Homo sapiens: one gene and its partners. The protein of the gene in region 2 interacts with the protein of the main gene of each other region in a pairwise test. Each region holds a gene or a part of one and is shown on either strand. Other genes may lie near its edges.

Evidence for each region.
Region 1: the proteins of PMP22 (region 2) and KCNN4 interact in binary tests that used the Homo sapiens proteins (3 or more experiments, as listed by UniProt).
Region 3: the proteins of PMP22 (region 2) and FCGRT interact in binary tests that used the Homo sapiens proteins (3 or more experiments, as listed by UniProt).
Region 4: the proteins of PMP22 (region 2) and TM4SF18 interact in binary tests that used the Homo sapiens proteins (3 or more experiments, as listed by UniProt).
Region 5: the proteins of PMP22 (region 2) and CEACAM3 interact in binary tests that used the Homo sapiens proteins (3 or more experiments, as listed by UniProt).
Region 6: the proteins of PMP22 (region 2) and SYT2 interact in binary tests that used the Homo sapiens proteins (3 or more experiments, as listed by UniProt).
Region 7: the proteins of PMP22 (region 2) and TM4SF19 interact in binary tests that used the Homo sapiens proteins (3 or more experiments, as listed by UniProt).

What each region holds. Positions count from the first base shown.
Region 1 is NC_000019.10:43,778,174-43,782,365, forward strand, and holds the start of KCNN4 (intermediate conductance calcium-activated potassium channel protein 4), read right to left. Parts: upstream 2,801-4,192; 5' UTR 2,689-2,800; coding exon 2,530-2,688; intron 1-2,529. UniProt on the Homo sapiens protein: Intermediate conductance calcium-activated potassium channel that mediates the voltage-independent transmembrane transfer of potassium across the cell membrane through a constitutive interaction with calmodulin which binds the intracellular calcium allowing its opening.
Region 2 is NC_000017.11:15,237,827-15,241,326, forward strand, and holds part of PMP22 (peripheral myelin protein 22), read right to left. Parts: intron 1,786-3,500; coding exon 1,645-1,785; intron 56-1,644; exon of another isoform or gene 1-55. UniProt on the Homo sapiens protein: Might be involved in growth regulation, and in myelinization in the peripheral nervous system.
Region 3 is NC_000019.10:49,519,161-49,522,660, forward strand, and holds part of FCGRT (IgG receptor FcRn large subunit p51 isoform 1 precursor), read left to right. Parts: intron 1-2,534; coding exon of another isoform or gene 2,535-2,653; intron 2,654-3,500. UniProt on the Homo sapiens protein: Cell surface receptor that transfers passive humoral immunity from the mother to the newborn. Binds to the Fc region of monomeric immunoglobulin gamma and mediates its selective uptake from milk.
Region 4 is NC_000003.12:149,320,818-149,323,636, forward strand, and holds part of TM4SF18 (transmembrane 4 L6 family member 18), read right to left. Parts: intron 1,620-2,819; coding exon 1,439-1,619; intron 676-1,438; coding exon 661-675; 3' UTR 1-660.
Region 5 is NC_000019.10:41,806,587-41,809,320, forward strand, and holds part of CEACAM3 (cell adhesion molecule CEACAM3 isoform 1 precursor), read left to right. Parts: intron 1-524; exon of another isoform or gene 525-1,031; intron 1,032-1,188; exon of another isoform or gene 1,189-1,447; intron 1,448-2,226; coding exon 2,227-2,344; intron 2,345-2,734.
Region 6 is NC_000001.11:202,700,455-202,703,954, reverse strand, and holds part of SYT2 (synaptotagmin-2), read left to right. Parts: intron 1-3,500. UniProt on the Homo sapiens protein: Exhibits calcium-dependent phospholipid and inositol polyphosphate binding properties. May have a regulatory role in the membrane interactions during trafficking of synaptic vesicles at the active zone of the synapse.
Region 7 is NC_000003.12:196,325,718-196,328,388, reverse strand, and holds part of TM4SF19 (transmembrane 4 L6 family member 19), read left to right. Parts: intron 1-797; 5' UTR 798-798; coding exon 799-999; intron 1,000-1,356; coding exon 1,357-1,434; intron 1,435-2,671. UniProt on the Homo sapiens protein: Negatively regulates vacuolar (H+)-ATPase (V-ATPase) activity by interacting with members of V-ATPase V0 complex and hence inhibiting V1-V0 complex assembly. Required for multinucleation during osteoclast differentiation.

The DNA of each region.
Region 1 (4,192 bases), on a different chromosome or scaffold from region 2:
GAATTTCCCTGTCTCTAGGGATGGTTGTTGCTGTCTTTCTATGTGTTTTGAGGGTCTTTGTTTCTATTGTCTCTTTTTTTTTTTGAGACGGAGTCTTGCTCTGTCACCCAGGCTGGAGTGCAGTGGCACGATCTTGGCTCATTGCAAGCTCCGCCTCCTGGGTTCACACCATTCTCCTGCCTCAGCCTCCTGAGTAGCTGGGACTACAGGCACACGCCGCCATGCCTGGCTAATTTTTTGTGTTTTTAGTAGAGATGGGGTTTCACTGTGTTAGCCAGGATGGTCTCGATGTCCTGACCTTGTGATCCGCCCACCTCGGCCTCCCAAAGTGCTGGGATTACAGGCGTGAGCCACCGCGCCCGGCCCTCTATTGTCTTTTCTAACGCTGTGTGTGTATCTCTCACTGGTGGATTTCTCAGTAGCTTGATAGCCCTATTTGTCTTTCTCTTTAGCTGTACTTCTCTATCTTTCTGCATTTTTGTCTCCATCTCTCTTTTTCTCTCCATGTATCTCTGTGTCTCTGTCTCTCTCTGTACCTCTCCCCATCCCTCCTCCTCCACCCCACCTGGTGCTTTTGGATATCTCTATCCAGTTCCCTTGGACTCCCTAGGGTTTTGCACCTGCCTCTCTGCCAGCCCCTCCCCCTGGGGAGCAGGTGTCTGGGTCCTTTGCAGAAATGAGCTCATTAGATTGAGATGGAGGTGGTGAGGGGCGGTGGATGTTATTAAGAGAGTCCTCAAAAGGGGACTGAGGAGCTGTGGCTCAGGCCTGTAATCCCAGCACTTTGAGGCAGGAGGATTGCCTGAGTCCAGGAGTTCAAGACCAGCCTAGGCAACAAAGCAAGGTCCCATCTCTACATAAAATAAAAAGGGTGGAGGGTGACCCTTAGGGTCATGTATTTTAACCCTCACCCCAATTTACAGATGGGGAAACTGAGGTTCAGAGGGTTGTAACAGCTTCCCCAAGGTCCCACTGATAGAGGCAGTGGCCTGGCCATGGTGGAGGGAAGGAAGAAATGAGGGGTGAGAAAGCAGAGGGGTGAAGTGGGGTAGGATGGACCCCGTCTCTTCCCATCTGCCAGGGTCACTGTGTTCCCACCTCGGCTTCTGGGTGCGGTGCTTCGGCGTGGGAGCGGCGGGCAGGCCCCGGCCATGCTTCCTGTTGGCATGGACTTCGGCGGCCCCACCCCCTCAGTGCCCGCCGCCTGCCAGAGGAAGCTGCATGCCTGACCCTCCATGTGGCTCCTGGTCACTTCAGAGCTGCCCACCACCCCCTCCAGATCCAAGTCGGAACATCAGACCCTCAGGAATCTACCCAATCTTCATATCAGTGTCCGCATCTGGCCCTACCAGCCCAGTTCCACAACCCTTCTGCCAGAGAGGTCTCCAGCCCCTCCTTTCCTGTTGAGCAAGTCTGTTCTCCCCTCAAGCCACTTATTCCAACCCTTGTCCTTGATCTGCCCCATCACTGGCCTGACCAGGGCTGGAATGTGACGGGAGCCTGCTGAGACCTGCCCTGACCCCACTTTCCCCTTTCTTCCCTACTCACCACTCATCTTCGGAGTCAGCCCCTCTTCCCCAAAAGCAATCAAAACCCCCTTCTCCTTAAGACTCAGGAATCCAGGACCCAGCCCCCTCCTCTCCTGGTACCTAGGAGTCCAGGCCACTGTAAGCCTACCTCTCCACTATTTCCCTGACTAATCAGCATGCAGATTTGGGGAGAAATTGAGCTTGTTAACAGTGGAGACTGGGTTGGGGTTGGTGGGGGGAGGCAGGTCGGGGGAGAGGTTTGTTTCCCATTTCCCATCCCCACCCCCAAGGCAGTTTTTTCTGTCCTTTGCATCTAAGGCACTGGGTAAACATTAGAGGTTAGACAAGGACCAAAGAGCTGCCGCCTACTGGAAGAACTTTGTCTTTCCTCCACTCTCCCTTCACCAAACCTGGGGCTACCTCTCCCCTTATTGGCTCTTGGGGGGCTTGAGTGTCTGATCAGCCACCCTCTGGCCTCCAGGGGTCCTGGACCTCTGGCCGTCTAATGGCAACATCTTCAAAGACTGAAACACTGAAACAAATATTCCCTTCCTTTTGCAGAGAAGGACCCCAGCAACTGTCTCCTGGGAGCACCCAGGAGTCCCAGCCAAAGCCCCTCCTCCCTCAGACCCAAGAGTCTAGGCCCCCAACCTCTCCTCCCTCAGATCCAGGAGTCCTGACCCCCAGCCCCTCCTCCCTCAGACCCAGGAGTCCAGACCCCAGCCCCTCCTCCCTCAGACCCAGGAGTCCTGACCCCCAGCCCCTCCTCCCTCAGACCCAGGAGTCCAGGCCCTCAGTCCCTCCTCCCTCAGACCCAGGAGTCCAAGTCCCCAGTCCCTCCTCCCTCAGACCCAGGAGTCCTGACCCTCAGCCCCTCCTCCCTCAGACCCAGGAGTCCTGACCCCCAGCCCCCCCTCCCTCAGACCCAAGAGTCCTGACCCCCAGCCCCTCCTCCCTCAGACCTAGGAGTCCCAGCTCCCAGCCACCATGCCCCACTCACCGAGCACCCCCCGAACCACAGCATCTCTGCATGCAGCACCATGAGTCCAATGCCAGTTCCTGCCAGCACCAGTGCCCAGCCGGCCAGAGACTTCTCCTGCTCCAGCAAGCGCTTTCGGCGTCTCAAGGCCCCCAGGCCAAGCACCAGATCCCCGCCCATGGCCCCCGGGGTCTTGGGGCTCAGCCAGCTTCCTGCCCAGGGTCCCCCACCTCGCAGCACGCACAGGGCAGCCACTGTGGCTTGCAGGTCGTCAGCCTGCTCTGCTGGCTCTGGGACTTTTGCTCTGAGGCACAGCAGAGCCCTGTGCCCTCTGGGGAGTGGTGACGGCCAGGCAGGGCGGGGAGGGGCAGGGGAGGCCCCAGGGTAGGGGGAGGCTCCCCAGCTCCCCCTTTTGAGAATAAGGAGGGGCTAGGGTGTGTCTTGGGGCAGAGCAAGAAAGAGACGTCCATCCACGTGGATAAAGACACACACAGACACACGATGGGCTTTGTCACACACAATGGTCTGTACTTTGTGACACACACCTCTACTCACCACACCCAGACACCGAAGGACACTCCACAGCCCAAGACGGAGACTAACACACCAGGGCACACAACACAACCTACACAGAGTGACTCACAACTCCCAGCAAGCTCTGAAACCCACAGCCACACCCAGACACCACACACATGGTGTGACACACACCAGCACTTAGCAAGCAGGCAGTATCCCGTGGCACACACAGCCACCCAAACACCGTCCACACACAGGCACAAATATTACACTCAAAGTTGTCACAACTTTCTCTGACACAAAGAGCCACACCCAAACACCACAAATAGGACGATGCACAACTGTGGCCACACAAACACAACATACACCAGGTGTTACACAAACACACAATATATATTAAAGTAGTGACGCCCTGATGCCACACACCACACACCGACACAAACACTGTGCAGTCCCAGTTTCCTAAACACTACACACCCTTGGAACGAAACCCAATACGTGTAGACACACAACATTTAGGGACATACCTATAGTAGCCCCCAATCACCCAGAGCTAGAGAATTGCACATACATTGTGGCGCCTGTTGACTCGAACACAAGTGCTCGCAGTGATGATTCAAAACACGCACTGATTCAGCATGCTCTGATGTGTGGTGCGATTCAAATGTATGGTCAGAGGACAAGCTGAGTGGATGCATGCAGAGACCTACAAGGTACAGCGACACACGGAGAAACCCAAGAAGCACATGCCTGAAGCAAGATGATTCTGGTATATTCTGGCCACACAGGACAACATCCAGGATGATGCCCTGGGGGAAGGGGATGGGGTTGGACCTTCATAGACCCCAGTGCCCAAATGCAACATACGGCTGGGTGCAGTGGCTCATGCCTGTAATCCCAGCAGTTTGGGAGGTTGAGGTGGGAGGATTGCTGGAGCCCAGGGGTTTGAGACCAGCCTGGGCAACATAGCAAGATCCTATCTCTAAAACAAGCAAAAACAAAAAAACAAACGCAACATACACCATCACCTCTGAGCCATGAGCCACACCCAAACATGACATACAATACCTCCACACAACCCAACACGTTATATTCCAACATGCGTGGCCACACAACAACATACGCGGAGTAATACACCAGCACACAGTAACGCAAAACACATAAACAC
Region 2 (3,500 bases):
AGGCACATCTCACACATGGGCATGAAAACCCAATCATCGCTTATGAAACTAACATTTCAATAGAAATACATTATGAAAGTTCTGGTTCTAAATCCATATTATCTTGAGGGCATATCCACTGATGCAATGGATATGATCATTATTTGATTTGATATCAAACTAAAACGAGTGAGAAAAAAAAAAAGAAACCCCAGAATATGTTACAGTTGTTTTTATTCCAACTGAAAATTGAGTAAGGGTAACTCTTCACTTTAACGTACCTAGAAATGATATCTCCTTGCATAATTAGTCATTTAACAGAGCCAGCAACCATCCAGGAGCTTGGCTTGGTGTCATAAGACATGTGTAAGTAGCAAAGCACTGTCTGGTTTTGAAATCTCAAAACCATGAGTATTGAAATGTTGTATTTGAGTGTTTAATGAGAAGTGGTTAATCATTTACTTCCTTTTTTCAGGAAAGGGGAACTCTCTGTCTTCTAGACAAGGTCACCAACATCTAACCTTGGGCTGTGTCTTCCCATACAACCCTATTTACGTCAACCTTCCAATGACTGCTCCTGGGGACAGAGTGGTGAAATGGTACCATGGGCATTCTGACAACCAACTCAGAGAAGAGATGCTACATCCTTTGCCCTCTCAGAGGGTCAGAATTGAGAACATCTCCCAGTACCTAGACATACTCTGGTACATATGAAGTTTGTGATCTATGAATTTGGACCACAGAATCCACCACTACATCTAGCTCTTACTTCTCTCCAATGCCCTGCTGGTTCAGTCAACAGTAAGTCAACAGACAGACATGTAAGAGCTAATGTAAGATGCTAGGCAGAATGCAAGATGTAAGATGTAAGATGTAAGATGTAAGCATGTAAGATGCTAGGCAGAATCCAGAGACAAAGTTGGAAGATGTCACCCTGTGTAACAGAAGTTTCTAGGACTCTGCACACTATGCATATTAATAACGTATTTAAAGAGGGAACTTGAAGACAGTTTAGGCAGGAGATTAAGGAGACCTCTCATGTGTTTTCATGTGTTGTCATAGCCCCATGTTTGGAAATGACAATATGTGACACAAGAGTGTCAAAATGAAGACACCAGAGGATGACAACAGTCAATCAAAGCCCAGTAGAATCTAGGAACTGGAAGCAAGGAAGGTGAGAATTTGTCAGTGTGGCTTCATCACTACCTATTGGTGGAAGACACATACCTGATAACTACTTTGCTAGTTCTTAGCACATCAGGGCCATTTTCTGGAGGCATAATGTAATCTACAGAAACAGCTCTCAAGCCTGACCTTTGCTCTACAGATAGCCTCAGTATTCACCTCTGATTATGTGTCCAGATTGCAGTTTCATTCCTGTTGATACGCCTGGCTTGGGTGGGGACCTTCCTTCCAGATCCTCTAAGTTCTCTTTCATATGCATCTCATTCCAGGGAGAAGGGGAGAGTTCTAAGTCCCAAGTTCTAAGACACATACAGGTACACACCCACACATACAAGCACCCACCCTCACTTTATGGAAAGCATCCAGTGGGGAGACTCATGAACATCAGTCATTCTGAGGCCACATCCTTCTACTAAACTAATCATTCCGCAGACTTGGATGCACCCCGCTTCCACATGGACTTTACCATCCACAACTTACCAGCAAGAATTTGGAAGATTCCAGTGATGTAAAACCTGCCCCCCTTGGTGAGGGTGAAGAGTTGGCAGAAGAACAGGAACAGAGACAGAATGCTGAAGATGATCGACAGGATCATGGTGGCCTGGACAGACTGCAGCCATTCTGGGGGAAAGAGACACTTGGTTAGGAGAGCTGGCCATGGCCGGGGGAGGGCTCTGCCTCGAGGTGCAGGGCCTGAAGGGCCATGACTGCTGACAGCACAGTCCTCACAGGCAGCAGAAGCAGAAGTCCTTTTTCCTTAGCAGAACTCAGACAATTCACTTTTGCAATCTAAGAAGACATTCTTTATTGTTTATTTTGGAGGAAAAAATATATACATATATACATACATCTATATGTACTGATATATACATATACAAACACACACATGTGCCAATATGTACACATTACATACATATATACCTATATGTACAAATATGCATACAAATATGTACGTGTTTCTATATATATGTGTATATACACATATACAAATACGTGACACACACATATATATAAAAAACACATGTGAACATTCAGGGAAGGGCTGTAAAAAAATATCTATAGTTCCATCACTAGGAGTTAAAGTCATTTTAAAATATATTGAATTTCCTTCCAGTGTTGGTGCAAATGTGTTACTTATGTACATGTGTCTGTGTTAAAGAGGGCCTGAGCCCTGCCTACTACCTTCCCTCTTCTTGCCCTCAGGGGTCTTTGAAGGGCTTATCAGAACTTCTGTATTCCAAGAAAAATAGCTTAAAACCACTATTCAAATTATCTGCATTCCCCAAGGAGAGGTAAAGATCACGGGAATGGCTGTTAGAGCCCAAAGTAATTTTTTGGAAGAATGGAAGAAAATACTGATGAAGAAAGGTATGCTCTCTATAGGTATGGAAATCAATTTGCTTGGACAACCCGTATTTTTTTTTTTTTTTTTTTTTGGTCAACTCTGATCATGGCCATTAGCCTCAGCACAGAGCGGTGTGTGATCGCCAACCACCAGACGGGATGAAGGCTTACACTTCCTTATCTCTGTTGAACCCCAAATCTCCAAGCTTCCAACTGAAATTCAGGCAAGAAGACAGAGCCTCCTATGGTTTCTTCAGTTCACCATCCGCTGCAAACTCATGTCATTTCAGGGAGGAAAGAAGAAACAACCTGAGTTCCACACTGTAGAGGGAAGCCCAGGGTAAAAATCTGCATTTGGCCTCTGTCTTGTCTTCCAAGTGCCACAGAATGCTGGGGGCAGGCACTGCTCTCATGGAGGAAGGGCAACTGGGGAAGCTGCAGCATTTAATCCTTTCAGCTCAGTAACTGCCATATGTAATGGCTTCAAAAGCATACCTTCAATGCTTCACCCAGTACTCACAGCTCTGAAATCTGGATGGTTTATAATTAGTAACTGAGTAAGATAAACTTGTTTTGAGTTGTAAGCAGCTCATGGCAGAATTTTAAGGGTGCAAATTAGGTTAACTGTTCCTAGATTTTCACCTAAGATGTTTCCAAGGCACAGACTGGAGATATTTTAGAGTTGGAAGAAACCTGAGAGATCAACTAGTCCAGCTCCTTTGCACTGAAAGAGATTTCCAGAGGTGTTTTCATGAGCCCAAATGACACAGCCAAATCTAAGAGGCCTTTGATTCTAGTCTAGCACTCTTCACATTCAAGCACAACATATGCTTCTTTCATTTTTTCAATTTCTTTGTCAATTAAAGTAAGAAAATGACGGCTAATGGGTTGTGAGCCATCCTGATTTCACTCTTACATAACCTTAATCAAATGTTTGTCTTTATCCAGCATAGAGGTTCTTCTGGAGGAGCACTTTGCAATAAAGATAATGT
Region 3 (3,500 bases), on a different chromosome or scaffold from region 2:
GATAGGTGTTTTGCAAATATTTCTTCCACTCTCTAGGTTGTCTTTTCATTGTTTTAACTGTGCCTTTCACAAAGCAAAAGTTTTTAACTTTGATGAAATCCAGTTTATTCTTTTTTTTTTTTCTATCGTGGATTATGCTTTTGGTGTTTAATCTCAGAAGTAATCACCAAACCCAAAGTCAGCTAGATCTTCTCCTGTGTATTTTAAGAGTTTTAAAGTTTTGCATTTTACAGTTAGGTCTGTGATTCATTTTCAGGTAATTTGAGTTACTTGTGATCTTGAGTGTCTTTTGATTTACAGGTTTCCCATTTTCTTTTTGTTTTTTTTCCCCCTGTAATTGTGGTTTGAAGAAAGTCAGTTTATGTCCTATTGAGTTTCTCCTAGACTGGATTTTGCCCTTTGCATCCTGTGATGTTGCTGGAAATAGTCCTCCTTCTCTTCTTTAAAGGAGCAGCTCCATCTAGAAGCTTGGTCAGATTCTGGTTCAATTTTTATGGCAAGAAAACTTTCTGGGTAGTTGGTGCGTATGTCTGTGTGCATAGGCTGCAAACATCTGCTTGCTTCTGTGCTGTTCTGTGGACCACTGGATTCGGGTGTTGTTATGAAGTTCTTTGTCAGGTTTTCTCCTGATGGTTTTAGCGGATAGCAATGGCCATTGCCTTAATCTTTTTTTTTTTTTTTTTTTTTTGAGATGGAGTCTTGCTCTGTCGCCCAGGCTGGAGTGCAGTGTTGCGATCTTGGCTCACTGCAACCTCCGCCTCCCAGGTTCAAGCGATTCTGCTGCCTCAGCCTCCTGAGTAGCTGGGATTACAGGTGCGTGCCACCATGCCTGGCTAATTTTTGTATTTTTTTTGGAGAGATGGGGTTTCACTATGTTGGGCAGGCTGGTCTTGAACTCCTGACCTTGTGATCCACTTGCCTCGGCCTCCCAAAGTGCTGGGATTACAGGCGTGAGCCACCGCGCCCGGGCTTTTTTTTTTTTTTTTTTGAGAGGGCGTCTCCCTCTGTCACCAGGCTGGAGTGCAGTAGCACGATCTCGGCTCACTGCAACCTCCACCTCCCAGGTTCAAGTGATCCTCCTGCCTCAGCCTCCTTAGTAGCTGGAATTACAGGCACACACCACCACACCCAGCTAATTTTTGTATTTTTAGTACAGACAGGGTTTCACCATGTTGGCCAGGATGGATTTTTTTTTTTTTTTTGAGATGGAGTTTCACTCTTATTGCGCAGGCTGGAGTACAATGGCATGATCTCAGCTCACTGCAACCTCCGCCTCCTGGATTCAAGTGATCCTCCTGCCTCAGCCTCCAGGGTAGCTGGGACTACAGGCATGCGCTGCCATGCCTAGCTAATTTTTATATGTTTAGTAGAGATGGAGTTTCACCATGTTGGCGAAGCTGGTCTTGAACTCCTGACATCAGGTGATCTGCCTGCCTCAGCCTCCCAAAGTGCTGGGGTTACAGACGTGAGCCACCATGCCTGACCTGGTTTGGTATTTTGTTAAACAGAACCAAAGGCCAGACAGATTTTCTGTGCTTGGATTTAGTCTATATTGGAAGTACCTTGAGGCTGAAGGCACGTGGCTGTGAGCACGACACAGGAAGATACAGATTTGCTGAAAAGAATAGTGAACATAAAGCAGAAGCCAGAACTGCTGATGGCCGTCAGCCCGGTCCCTCCATTCCACCTGACGGTGCAGCAAATTCTGCCGACTTGCCAGAGAGGCAGCTCCAGGAGGGAGAAGCTGCTGTGCTTTCCTGAAGCAGCAAATGTGTTTTCTGCTGAGCAACCAAAACCAAGATCCCAGCCAAGACCCACGATTGCCCAGATCCACCCTCCCTGAAAGGAACTTGGGCAGTAATGCCCAGTCCTAGGCAGTTGCTGAAATCTTTGCCTTTTATTTTCTTTTTTGAGCTGGGATCTTGCTCTGTCGCCCAGACTGGAGTGGAGTGCAGTGGCACAGTCATAGCGCCATGTAGCCTTGGACTCCCAAGCTCAAGAGATCCTCCCGCCTCAGCCTTACAAGTAGCTGGGACTATAGGTACACGTCACCATGCCTGGCTAACATTTTCTATTTTTTGTAGAGATGGGGTATTTGTTGCCAAGGCTGGTCTAGAAGTCCTGGGCTTGGCCGGGCACAGTGACTCACGCCTGTAATCCCAGCACTTTGGGAGGCTGAGGCAGGCGGATCACGAGGTCAGGAGTTCAAGACCAGCCTGGCCAATATGGTGAAACCCTGTTTCTACTAAAAATAGAAAAATTAGCTGGGCGTGGTGGTGTGCGCCTGTAATCCCAGCTACTCTGGAGGCTGAGGCAGGAGAATCGCTTGACCCCAGGAGGCGGAGGTTGCAGTGACCCAAGATTGTGCCACTGTACTCCAGCCTGGGCGACAGAGACTCCGTCTCAAAAAAAAAAAAAAAAAAAGGAAAAGAAAGCCTGGGCGTAAGGATCCTTCTGCCTTGACCTCCCAAGTGCTGGAATTGCAGGCATGAGCCATTGCACCCGGCTTTTTTTTTTTTTTTTCTTTGAGACAGGCACTTGCACTGTTGCCTAGACTGGAGTGCAGTAGCGGGATTAGAGTTCACTGCAGCCTCAACCTCCCAAGCTCAAGCGATCCTCCCACCTTACCCTTCCTGAATGGATGGGGCCACAGGTGTGTACCATCACACGTAGTTAATTTTTAAACTTTTTCAGAGACGGGGTTTCTCCATGTTGCCCAGGCTGGTCTTGAACTCCCGGCTTCCAGTGATCCTCCTGCCTCAGCTTCCCAAAGTGCTGGGATTACAGGCATGAACCACTGCACCCAACCTTTTTTCATTCCCTTAACGAAACCTTTGGATGAACAAAAATTCTTAATTTCAGTGAAGTTCAGTTTATCGACTTCAATTTATACATTTTATAAAGTTTATGAATTTTTTTTTTTTTTTTTAGACGGAGTCTTGCTCTGTCGCCCAGGCTGGAGTGCAGTGGCTATACCCAGGTGTGATCATAACTCACTCCAGCCTCAAACTCCTGGGCTCAAGGATTCCTCCTGCCTCAGTCTCCAGAGTAGGTGGGACCACAGGCACATCCACCACACTGGCTAATTTTTTTTATTTGTAGTGGAGACTACGTCTTACTGTTTGCCCAGGCTGGTCTCCAACTCCTGGGTTCAAGTGATCCACCTCATTCTCCCAAAGCGCTGGGATTGTAGGAGTGAGCCACTGCACCCAGCCTGTCTGCTAATATTATGTTTAAGAGTTCTGAATCTTTTTTTAAATTTTTTAAAATTTTTAATTTTTTATTTTTTTTGAGACAGTCTTGCTCTGTCGCCCAGGCTGGAGTGCAATGGTGCAATCTTGGCTCAATGCAACCTCCGCCTTCTGGGTTCAAGCGATTCTCCTGCCTTAGCCTCCTGAGTAGCTGGGATTACAGGTACACGCCACCATGCCTGGCTAATTTTTTTGTATTTTTAGTAGAGATGGGATTTCACCATGTTGGTCAGGCTGGTCTCGACCTCC
Region 4 (2,819 bases), on a different chromosome or scaffold from region 2:
GGGAAGAAGGGTCATCAATGCCCCAAACCAAGCATAATTGGCATTTTGTTATATTTCCTTTTAGATTTAGTTTTCATCCTAAACTTTGACTATTAGTGTTTCATTTGCTTTAAATAGTTATATAGTAAACATGAATTTGTAACCTGCTTTTTGATGTAGCATTATTCATAATTTTAAAAACATCATTTGTAATGACTGTAATTTTACAACCATGTAGTACTCTTTATTTTTTATTTAATTTTTTTTTTAATATCAGAAAACATTTACAGTATGTACCACTCTTTACTTAATCCTTCCTCTGAGTTTAGAATTTTGGGGTGTTTCCAATTTTCCAGAATATTAAATAATGTTGCAATATACATATTTGCATAAAGGTTTCTCTCATATTCTTATTTACTTCCCTAGTACAGATTCTTGGAAATGGATTTGTTTGATCAAAGGGCAGAAGTATTTCTGAAGTTTCTGATGCATATTACTTAAAAAACATACTAAATGGAAGGGTGGTATACTTGCATGTGCAGTGAGGACTGCAAATTTTTTACAAATAAACACCAAATGCAGAAAGCACCATCATTTCAATATTGCCCTCAAGTCTACACAGTTGATATAATATTTAGATAGATGGCCATGTCTTGATAATGGAAAACATTTTGTCCTTATTCAAATGATTCCAGGCTATAGGAAAAAAGGAAAAACAAAGTGATTAAAGTTATAAACTTGGCTTGATTAGTAATCCGTAATCCAGATAGCAACTTAAACTTATATTTCATATTCAAAATATGATAGAACAGAAAAAACATCTCTTAGAAATTGCTAGGAAAGGTATTACACATTCTGTTGTTAAACAAAATACAAGCCATCTAAATTCATAATTTTTCTTCACTCTGGACTTCTTGATAGCAGTTTCAACCATAACTAAATTAACATTAGTATTTTAGCAGACGAAGTAGAAGTAGTTTCAATGGGATAAATACATATTTCCCTTCTTCTTCAAAAGCACTCCTATGCACTCGAGATAAAGGTTCATTAGTTGAATGTAGCAGCATTCAGAAGAGAAGTTATTTCAATGAGATAAGGTTCTGAGCCTTTGCTTAACTTATGAACAGGGAAATTCTTGATAAATGGTAAAATTTCATCATGCTTTGAGTTATCTCTATGTAGAACACTAAAACTTTGCTCATTCAAAACACTTATGAAGCCTTACCATACAACAAGAAATGCAGATTTTACAATTACTGAGTTGATTCAACCCTTATAGATAAGCCAAGACACATTGGGATATCAGAAAAAATTGAGATATTAGAGCTTGAATAAAGATGAGGGCAATAGAAATGGGGGGAAAGTGATGGAATTCTAGAGTCTTTTCAAAAAGCCTCATTGAATCCTGGGAAGTGGGGGAAATATGGATGAGCTACAGGTGCCCATGAGAATCTGTTACCTGGAAGATCACTGAATAGCTTCCACACAGTATCTTGGATAGTTGCATGACTACTCTGATGAGGCAGATGATCACTTGAAGCCCACTGAGGGTTATGAGAATGGAAAATAAAATGATGTTCCACTCCACAACATGTGCAGGTTCCAGGCACTGAATCCATATGCTAGAATCTGTAAGGAAACTGAGAGAGACCCATGGCCAAATCTACATACTGGGTCCAAGGAAGAAAGCTACAAGCATTTGTATGTTTGAGAAATTACTGTATAACTAAAATATATAGTTATTAGATATGAATTAATACATTTTAAAAACCATTCAGATACACATATTGGACATATCTTATGCATAGCACTGAGCTAGATACTTAGTGTGTTATAAATGTTGTGCTTGCCTTATCACCCCCATGGCCTCTTTGTTTTTCTTTCTCCCTCTTCCATTTCTTTCCTACTTCCTTCTTTTTTACTCTTTCCCCACCTTTATTTATTTTCTACTTTCTAATGCTCCAGGAAATAGAGGCACTCTGAGAATTTCTTTATATTGTTAATGGCTCTTGTCTCCAATGGGAAAGAGCACAGAATATGAAATCAGAATTCCTGGATTTGGGTCTGCAGGATGTTGAGCAAAGAACTTTACCCCTCTGGCCTCCAGACTTTTTTTTTTTTTTTTGAGACGGAGTCTTGCTCTGTCGCCCAGGCTGGAGTGCAGTGGCGCATCTTCGCTCACTGCAAGCTCCGCCTCCCTGGTTCACGCCATTCTCCTGCCTCAGCCTCCCAAGTAGCTACAGGCACCCGCCACCACGCCCGGCTAATTTTTTGTATTTTTTTAGTAGAGACGGGGTTTCACCGTGTGAGCCAGGATGGTCTCGATCTCCTGACCTCATGATCTGCCTGCCTCACCCTCCCAAAGTGCTGGGATTACAGGCATGAGCCACCGCGCCTGGCCCTCCAGACTCTTATCTTGATAATGGGGTTAAAATATCTAACCCCAGAGTTATTGTGAATATTTGGTAAGAATGTGTATACAAACAGTTTGGAACCTGTAAAGTACAATACAGATGTGGCTTTCTGTTAAATTTCCCTAAACCTATCTCATACCCCCATTTACCCCTATCTCCATCTCAGCTGCCAGGGAAATGAGTCCCTCCAGATCCCTCCTCTAGACTGTTCCTAGTACATGCTCTGCACAGATCATCTAGCAATTTAAAACAAGATGACTTGCAATGTTGCAGGAAGTCGGGGACCCCAAATGGTGGGACTGGCTGGAGCCGCGGCAGAGAAACATGAATTGTGAAGATTTCATGGACATTTATCAGTTCCCAAATAATACTTTTATAATTTCTTATGCCTGTTTTTACTCTAATCTCTTAATCCTGTTATCTTCA
Region 5 (2,734 bases), on a different chromosome or scaffold from region 2:
CAGGCAGCCTCACAGTCTCTGAGCCCTCAGACGGTCATGCATCTGTCTGTGACACACACATCTGTCTTCGTCTTTTTTTGTTTGTGTGTTTGTTTGTTTGTTTGCTTGTTTGTTTTGAGAGACAGAGTCTCACTCTGTCGCCCAGGCTGGAGTGCAGTGGTGCGATCTCGGCTCACTGCAAGCTCTGCCTCCCGGGTTCACACCATTCTCCTGCCTCAGCCTCCCAAGTAGCTGGGACTACAGGCGCCTGCCACCATGCCTGGCTAATTTTTTGTATTTTTTAGTAGAGACGGGGTTTCACCGTGTTAGCCAGGATGGTCTCGATCTCGTGACCTCGTGATACGCCCGCCTCGGCCTCCCAAAGTGCTGGGATTACAGGCGTGAGCCACCGCACCCGGCCTTGTCTTGGTCTTTTAAGGAGTGGAGTTGGCCAAAGAATAGGAGATGTTGATTCTGATTAAAATATGCCTGTGGAGGAATCACAGGTGCCACACAGGGCAATCTTCTCTCTGTTTTCTGCACAGCGGAGCTGCCCAAGCCCTCCATCTCCAGCAACAACTCCAACCCCAAGGAGGACAAGGATGCTGTGGCCTTCACCTGTGAACCTGAGATTCACAGCACAACCTGCCTGTAGTGGGTAAATGGTCAGAGCCTCCCGGTCAGTTCCAGGCTGCAGCTGTCCAATGACAAGAGGACCCTCACTCTACTCAGTGTCACAAGGAATGACACAGGACCCTATGAGTGTGAAATACCGAACCCAGTGGGTGCCAGCTACAGTGACCCAGTCACGCTGAATGTCCTCTGTATCTTCTGTTCCTCTGTGGCCCAGGCTTCCAGCCCAAATCCACACAGCCAGAGGCCAGGCCTCTCAGTCCCTCTCAAGTCCAGGGACTCAGACTCTCACCCAGGCTGGCCATCACTTCCTGTCCCAAGCAAACCTGGGCAGACCCAGCCTTGACCAAGAATAGGAGGGGAGAGGCTGCTCCTGTCCTGGGAGGCTCAGGGTCCACAGCCTGTGATGGGAGAAACAGGTGAATATCTCAGACCCAGACTCAGTGGACAGATTGGGTTTCGTTAGGACTTCAAGGTTGTGACTTGGCTCACAGGGACACTGTGGCTCTTCCACAGACCAGGAGCTTCCCCTTCCCTTTGATGATATCATCTATGACTTTATTCTCGCTACTCCAGATGGACCGGGCATTCCCACCATTTCCCCCCCAGACTCCTATTACCATCCAGGGGCAAATCTCAACCTCTCCTGCCACATGGCCTCTAACCCACCTGCACAGTACTCCTGGTTTGTCAGTGGAATGCTCCAGCAACACACACAAAAGCTCTTTATCCCCAACATCGCAGTGGATAAGAGTGGATCCTATGCTTGCCTCGCCCATAACTCAGCCACTGGCCTCAGTACAATCACAGTCAAGACAATCACAGTCTCTGCTAAGTGGATCCCTGGAGCATAGGCCCTGAGCCCTGGGTAAAGCCACTCAGTTTTCTGAAAGAGCCTAGAAGTTTATTTCCCAGCCCATGTCTTGGACACAAGCAAATCCCAAACTCTACCCTGAGCCCTCTCACTCCACCTCTGCAGGACCCCTCCTCCCCTTGTTGTTCTGATTTCTCACAGCTGACCTTGGGGCCAGCCTGGAATGTTGTACAAATTTTGTTTTATCACTTACGAGTTCTGTGACCTTCCTTGACTTACTGAGGTGCTTTAAGTCTCAGATTCTAACTCTGCAGCTGGGGGTGATGCCCCCTCTCCCTCAAGGTGATGTAAGGATGAGATGAGTTGTAGGTAGGTTGGTGCCCACTGGAACTGGCACATGGAAGGCCCCTGAAAACAGTCAATGAACATCATCCCTGCTTATCAGCATTGAGTTGATGCCAAGGGCCTGCCCTTTGTGAGTGTCATGGGATGGAAAAGGAGAAACAGAGGGAAGAGGCATGATGCGAGAGGAAGGAGGGACTAAAAGGCACAGGAGCAGGGTGAGGTGCAGGCACCTCTGGGACAATGTATGAGTTGGTGCCGCCCAGTGTGTCAAGCCTGCAGAAAATGGTGCCACCATGGAAAGCAAGGGAATCTGTGATGAGGACAACACAAGAGACTACACTCAGGCCCCATGGCATCTCCTTCTTCCCTGACTGCACACCTTCCCTGCAAGGCCCCTGTGGTTTCCTCTGGGATAGACTTGGGCCTCTATCCCCTTTGCCTTCTTCTTTCTGCAGAAGAAAATGCCCCAGGCCTTCCTGTGGGGGCCGTCGCCGGCATCGTGACCGGGGTCCTGGTCGGAGTGGCGCTGGTGGCCGCGCTGGTGTGTTTCCTGCTCCTTGCCAAAACTGGAAGGTACCACAGCTTTTTCCCATCCTTCTCCCACCCCCTAGGCTGACTCCAGGCCAAAAGAAAGGAGACCTTGTCCTGTATTCAGGGCCAGGCTCTCCACGGCCTCCCAAGTCCCCAGGGATCCTTCCCTCTTATTCCACGGCTCCTCCCTCGTCAGCTCCTGACCCTGGGTTGCTGCCTCAACAGCTTCCTCCTCTGTGAATTTGGCCCAATTAAGGCCCCACCCCTGAGTGTGGCCCTAGTTCCCTCACACAGCAAAGCCACAGCTGCCTGGAGGGAGGGAGAGAAGGAGGGAGGGAAGTAGGGAGGGAGGGAGGGAGGGCGTGCTCTGTACTTGGTACCTCCCATTGTTCATTGAATCCATCCACACAGTGAGGGGGATTTGCAGGCTCC
Region 6 (3,500 bases), on a different chromosome or scaffold from region 2:
ATTGGGTTGATACAGTGGCTCTGGAATTTAGTAATTAGGAAATATTGCAATTAGAGACGGAATTTACCCATTACTATTCCATGCATCTTAATACAGGGTGTAAGTGGTTGTAACTGTGAGCTTGGCACTAGGCATATGGGAAAATAGAAGTGAATGGAGAAATGGGATGAAGGAAGGAGGGGATGGGAGGAGCTTAACCCTTTCCATACCCGAGTAGACTGAAGGAGCAGCCTGGGGGTGATGCAGGGTTAGGGCGAGCCCAGCAGCCCACCGCATTTGTAAGAGGTGACCGAGGCAAAAATCACAGGCTCCCTCCGGACCTTCTGCTTCTTTAGCTCAGGTAGGATCAGATGCAGGGCTTGGCAGGGGTTAGGAGAGTGGTGATGGAGGCCAAGAGGGAGAGGCTGCAGGGGAGAAGGGCTCTTCTCCCAGTTTCCTGCTCAGCTGTGGAGAAACAGAAAAGAGTTGTAACCACCTGCAGTAGTGTGCATGTGAGAGACAGGAGAGGGTACCTTGTACCTTCATCTCTCCCTCCCCACTTGTTCCTTCCCCCGCCCTTCTTTTTACTCCCTTCCTCACTCCTACTCTTAGCTCCATTTTCCTCTGAAGTCAAATGAGGCATTTGTGGTATTGCAGGGCTGAGCTGGGTAGGGCCATGTGTATGGGCGGCGGAGGGAGGGGAGCGGTGGCCGGGGGTGGGAGGGTGGTAGCGTCAAAGAGGTGGTGCTCATTTTTTCCTTTCCAGACCAGAAATGCCTTCCCCAAGGTCAGCCAGTGCTCTGAGCTCCAAAGACCTTCCCAGAGAACCTCTGCTCCCTAAGGGCTGGGTGGTTTGAGAGAAATCTCTTTTCCTCACCATTGATTCCAGTCTGAACTAATGATCCAGATGTGTTGTGCATGTCCTTCCTCTTCTACAAAGTGACTCGGGAAGCAGTTTTTATGCTATTTGTAGAAAGGAAGCATTTTCTGGAGCGGGGCCTTCTCTGCTTCTGCTACACCTTAACTCCCTAGATTAGAGGAGAGCTGTGAGGCCGCAAGGAGGGGGGCCTGGAGAGGGGCTTGGGCTGAGGGTGGTAGAGGTCTCTGAGGACTGTCCTTGTCTTCTGCCTCCTGTGTTTATTTGGAGAAAAGCCCATTTAACAAATGTACAGGTCTTTACCTCTATCCCTCTTGGGGCTGTCTGCCATGTATCTTTCATTGTACCAACTCAGATGGACCAAGTGACGGCCCGGTCATAGGGCCTAAGATGGGATGTTAGGAGACGGGGTGGAGGCCTGCAAGCAGGAGGAGAGGGGACCACCCAGGCAACCCTCTAGAAGTGCAGGAAGGATGAACAAGAACCTATTGGTTAAGTGCTCTTGGGTCTTGGAGGGAAGCAGACCTAGGACTGAAATCCATCCTCACCACTAGGAGCTAAGAAGAGTTACAGGTAAACCCCAGGAAACTCAAGGGTGGCTGTGGCTAGGATCAGTGTTAGCGGGAAGCATGGAGTTAATTGGCTGTGGGAGGGCTCCCTCTCCCAGTTTGACTCTCCCACGAGTAGGAAAAGGCATCACTTTAATAAGGCTGCCCTGTTTCCAAATCAATCCTGGCATTGCAGGAGGCGAAGGGGGAAGCACAGCTGAGAAATTGGATTAGCTCTTTGATGCTGGGAACTGTGCTGGTTGCTGCTGCTGCAGCTGCAGGAGGCAGGGAAGCATCAAGAACTGAGCCTGCCATTGGCAAGCCAGCCCCAGACGTCTGAGGCTTCCCAGGGAGGCGTGCTCCACCCCCATTAGGTCTCCTACTGGTAGAGGGTGGCAGGGGTGCCCTGGGGCAGACAGTAATAGAAGCCCAGGTCCTCACCACTGCAAACCTGGAGGTGTCTTCGTGCCTCCCCTGGAGTAGATCGTGAGCCCCAAAGACCTCAGGAGGTGAGGCAATGGGGAAGGGGCAGAGGAGAGGCCCCCACAGCATGTTCTGTAGGGCATAACTGAAGCAGCGTGTGTGTGGCTGGGAGTCAGATGGCCTAGGTCAAACCAAGACTGCCACTTCCTGCCTGTGTGACCCTGGGCAAGTTACTTAAACTTTCTGAACTTCGGGGTCCTCATCTGAAAATGGAGACAGTAACACACAGGGAACAGGCCCTTGTGAAGTTTACCTTATAGCAGTAATCAAGATGGGGGCCACGGGTCCCTGGGAGTCCCTAAGAATTTTCAGGGGGGTCCATAAGGTCAAAGCAGTTTCCATGATGGCAATAAAGTTATTTGCCATTCCCATGCTTGACATTGATGGTGCTAAAGCAGTGGTGGGTGAAGCTGCTGGCACCTTACCATGAATCAAGGTAATAGTATCACACTGCACCCGTCTTTGTGTTCTTCCACACTACACACCCGCTAAGCAAAGTAATTGGTAAATAATGAAATGCCATTTTCAGTTAAGAATGTCTTCTTTTCATGAAGCAGCAAAGATTATAATTATATTGAAGCTTGATTCTGGAGTGCACATCTTTTTAATATTCTCTGTGATGGAATGAGAAGTACACATAAAGCACTTCTGCTTCTTACAGAAATATTACACAATAATTTCTCAAGCAACTGAACAGTGCCCATCACCTGTGCATCTGTTTGAGTTGCAGGCTGAACTAGCCATTTTTCCATGGGATACCATTTTATCTGAAAGAACAACCAACAAACTCCAGTTATTCAGACTTGGGTGTTGAGCAGGCATTTTTGCAAAAATGAACGAAGTGAGCTCGTCACTTCCAGAAAAACAACTGGCAGTATTTGTGGCCAATGATAAAATTTAAGCTTTCAAGCAAAAATTAGAATTTTGGAAAACTCACACATATTACTATGAAAAGGACTTTTGTGATAAGATCAGTGGGAATAGTAATAGATGTGATTTGTTAATATTGTTTAATGAAATTCATCAATATTTGAAAGATCTTCACAATTCGGCAAGCCAATATCTTCGAAATGATAAATGAATGATGTCACAAAATCATGCACAGAGGCAAACAAGCATTCCAAGTGCAAGGTTTCAGATTCCCCACTGCAGCCAGTCTTTAAGAAGCTACCACTTGGGGAGCAGTGATGTCATATCAAAGAAAAATATCCACAATGATCTGAAAAGGCTTTATTAAATACCCCTCCCCTTTCCAGTTACATATCTGAGTGAGGTTGGATTTTCTTTCATCTTTCAATCAAAGTAATGTATTGCAGACAGACCGAACACCGAAGTTGATATAAAACTCTAGCTACCTTCTAGTAAACCACACATTAAAGAGATTTGCAATGATGTGAAACAAGGCCTCCTTCTTACTAGATATTTTACTAGAGAAAACGTCTACTATATATTTTTTTGGTCTTGGAAAATATAGTTACTTATTAAATATGTTGTATTAACAGGTAATGAGTTACTATTGTATTTTGAGCTAATTTAGAAATTTCTCAGTTTTAATTTTGAATATGGTAACTATGGATGGATCTAACTTACATAAGAAAACGCTCTTGGAGGGT
Region 7 (2,671 bases), on a different chromosome or scaffold from region 2:
ACCTGTTAATTCTAATAAACTTTAGGATTTTCTACATAATGTGATCACATTATCTGTGAATAATAACAATGTTACTTTTTTTTTTTTTTAAGATGGAGTCTTGCTGTGTCACCCAGGCTGGAGTGCAGTGGCATGATCTCAGCTCACTGCAACCTCTGCCTCCCGGGTTCAAGCAATTCTCCTGCCTCAGTCTCCCCAGTAGCTGGGATTACAGGCACCCACCACCGTGCCCAGCTAATTTTTGTATTTTTAGTAGAGACGGGGTTTCACCATGTTGGCCAGGCTGGTCTTGAACTCCTGACCTCGTGATCCGCCTGCCTCAGCCTCCCAAAGTGCTGGGATTACAGGCCTGAGCCACCATGCCTGGCCGACAATATTACTTCTTTCTTTCCTATCTGTGTGGCTTTTGCTTCCTTTTATTTTCGTATTGCACTGGCCAGGACCAGTACAACGTTGAATAGAAGTGGAGACAATGGACATCATGAAGACACCTTTAAACATTTCTTTTTGTCAGAAATAATCACTGGCTGTAATAGAGGCATAAACAAAATATGATGGAATGCAAACTATGTATGTGTGAACAGGGGTTAGCAGAAAAGGAAACAATTAAATCCTAGTCACTGGGGAAGATTCCTAAGGAGCAGAGTTTTTAAGCAGGTTGCTTGGCTCTCATTGGTCTGACCCTGGAAGGTGGCGGTTTCTGTAGTCTGTTTCCCTCACCCATGATATGCTGCTGGAGTTCCCTTCCCCATCCCCCCACAGCAGAGCTGCTGCGACTCCCTTTCTATCTGTTCCAGGATGGTGTCCTCTCCCTGCACGCAGGCAAGCTCACGGACTTGCTCCCGTATCCTGGGACTGAGCCTTGGGACTGCAGCCCTGTTTGCTGCTGGGGCCAACGTGGCACTCCTCCTTCCTAACTGGGATGTCACCTACCTGTTGAGGGGCCTCCTTGGCAGGCATGCCATGCTGGGAACTGGGCTCTGGGGAGGAGGCCTCATGGTAAGTGTCCGGGGTTCCCTGAACGTGAACTCTCAAAGAGACCCCGGCGGGGAGCAGGAAGGTGGCATGGGAAGAGTGTTTTGATTCCTTGCAGAAAAGTTTATTCTAACAAGCTGATCTTGGGTCTGTAGAAGCTCTAAGAGACAGGAAGCCTAGCTTGGGACCAGGCAGGTCGGGTGTGAAAGTTAACATCCACAGCGTTAGATCAGGCTCGTCATACAAATGTGGGTCCCCAGAGTCAGAGTCAACAGGACTGCGTTCATGTGAGCTGCCAGCCACTCTAACAGCTGTGGGCAGCACCTAGAAACAGCCGGCAAAGTCGATTTCCCCATCTCAACATTCTTCTCTCTCCTGCAGGTACTCACTGCAGCTATCCTCATCTCCTTGATGGGCTGGAGATACGGCTGCTTCAGTAAGAGTGGGCTCTGTCGAAGCGTAAGCACCAGATTCCACTCTTCTAACACCCAGAATGTCTCCACCTCTATTACTCTAGAGGCAGGGCGGTAAAGAGGCAATTTTGGTCTTGGGGCCTGAAGTCAGGTCCTCACTGTGACCCTCAGTAACGCTAAGTTCTTGGGCAAGTTGCTTCATCTTTCCAGTTTCAGGCTTTCATCTGTAAAATGGGAGCTGATCAAGTCAAGGGAGTAGTGCTTAGTGAAGCCCAGACGTCTGTACCAGTGTGAGGACCCAGACGTCTGTACCAGTGTGAGAAACTGTTACTCTCTTAGGGTGTTGGACAATATGGACATGAGTTATGACACTGTAATCATGTGTCATTGATGGAAATTTTCCTAGTTATTTTAACTAATATTTTCTTAGAACAGGAAAGTTTTCCAGAGATCATCTAATCACTAGATTCTAATCTAACCCCTCCATTTTACAGATAAACTGAGGCCCAGAATAAATTTCTACCTTATTAATTACAGCAGCAACTGTATAAACTTGAAAGATCTCAGTATATGTGTGTGTAACAAACACACACACACACACACACACACACTCGTTCTCAGACATGAATCTGTGGCCTTATGGTAACTCCACAGCCTGCTCTGATATCTGCAGCCCACATGTTGGGAAGCCCACTGACTCAGTTACATGTTAAAAAATCAAATATAGGCCAGGCGCGGTGGCTCACGCCTGTAATCCCAGCACTTTGGGAGGCCAAGATGGGCGGATCACCTGAGGTCAGGAGTTTGAGACCAGCCTGGCCAACATGGTGAAACCCCGTCTCTACCAAAAATACAAAAATTAGCTGGGCGTGGTGGTGGGCGCCTGTAATCCCAGCAACTCAGGAGGCTGAGGCAGGAAAATCTCTTGAACCCGGGAGGCGGAGCTTGCAGTGAGCCGAGATGGCGCCACTGCACTCCAGCCTGGGCGACAGAGCGAGACTCCGTTTCAAAATAAATAAATAAATAAGTACATAGATAAATAAATAAACACTTGCACATTTCATTCACTGTCTGTTCTCATTCTGGTTTTCCCCGTGGCACGTAGTTCTGACACTTGAATGTGCATGAGAATCACCTGGAGGGCTTTTGCCGGAACACGGATTGCTGGGCTCCCTCCCCAGAGTTTCTGATTCAGGATGGCGGGGAAGTTTTGCATTTCTAACAGGTTCTCAGGTGATGTGATGCGGCTGGGCAGGGACCCCATTTTGGGAACCACTGCCCTA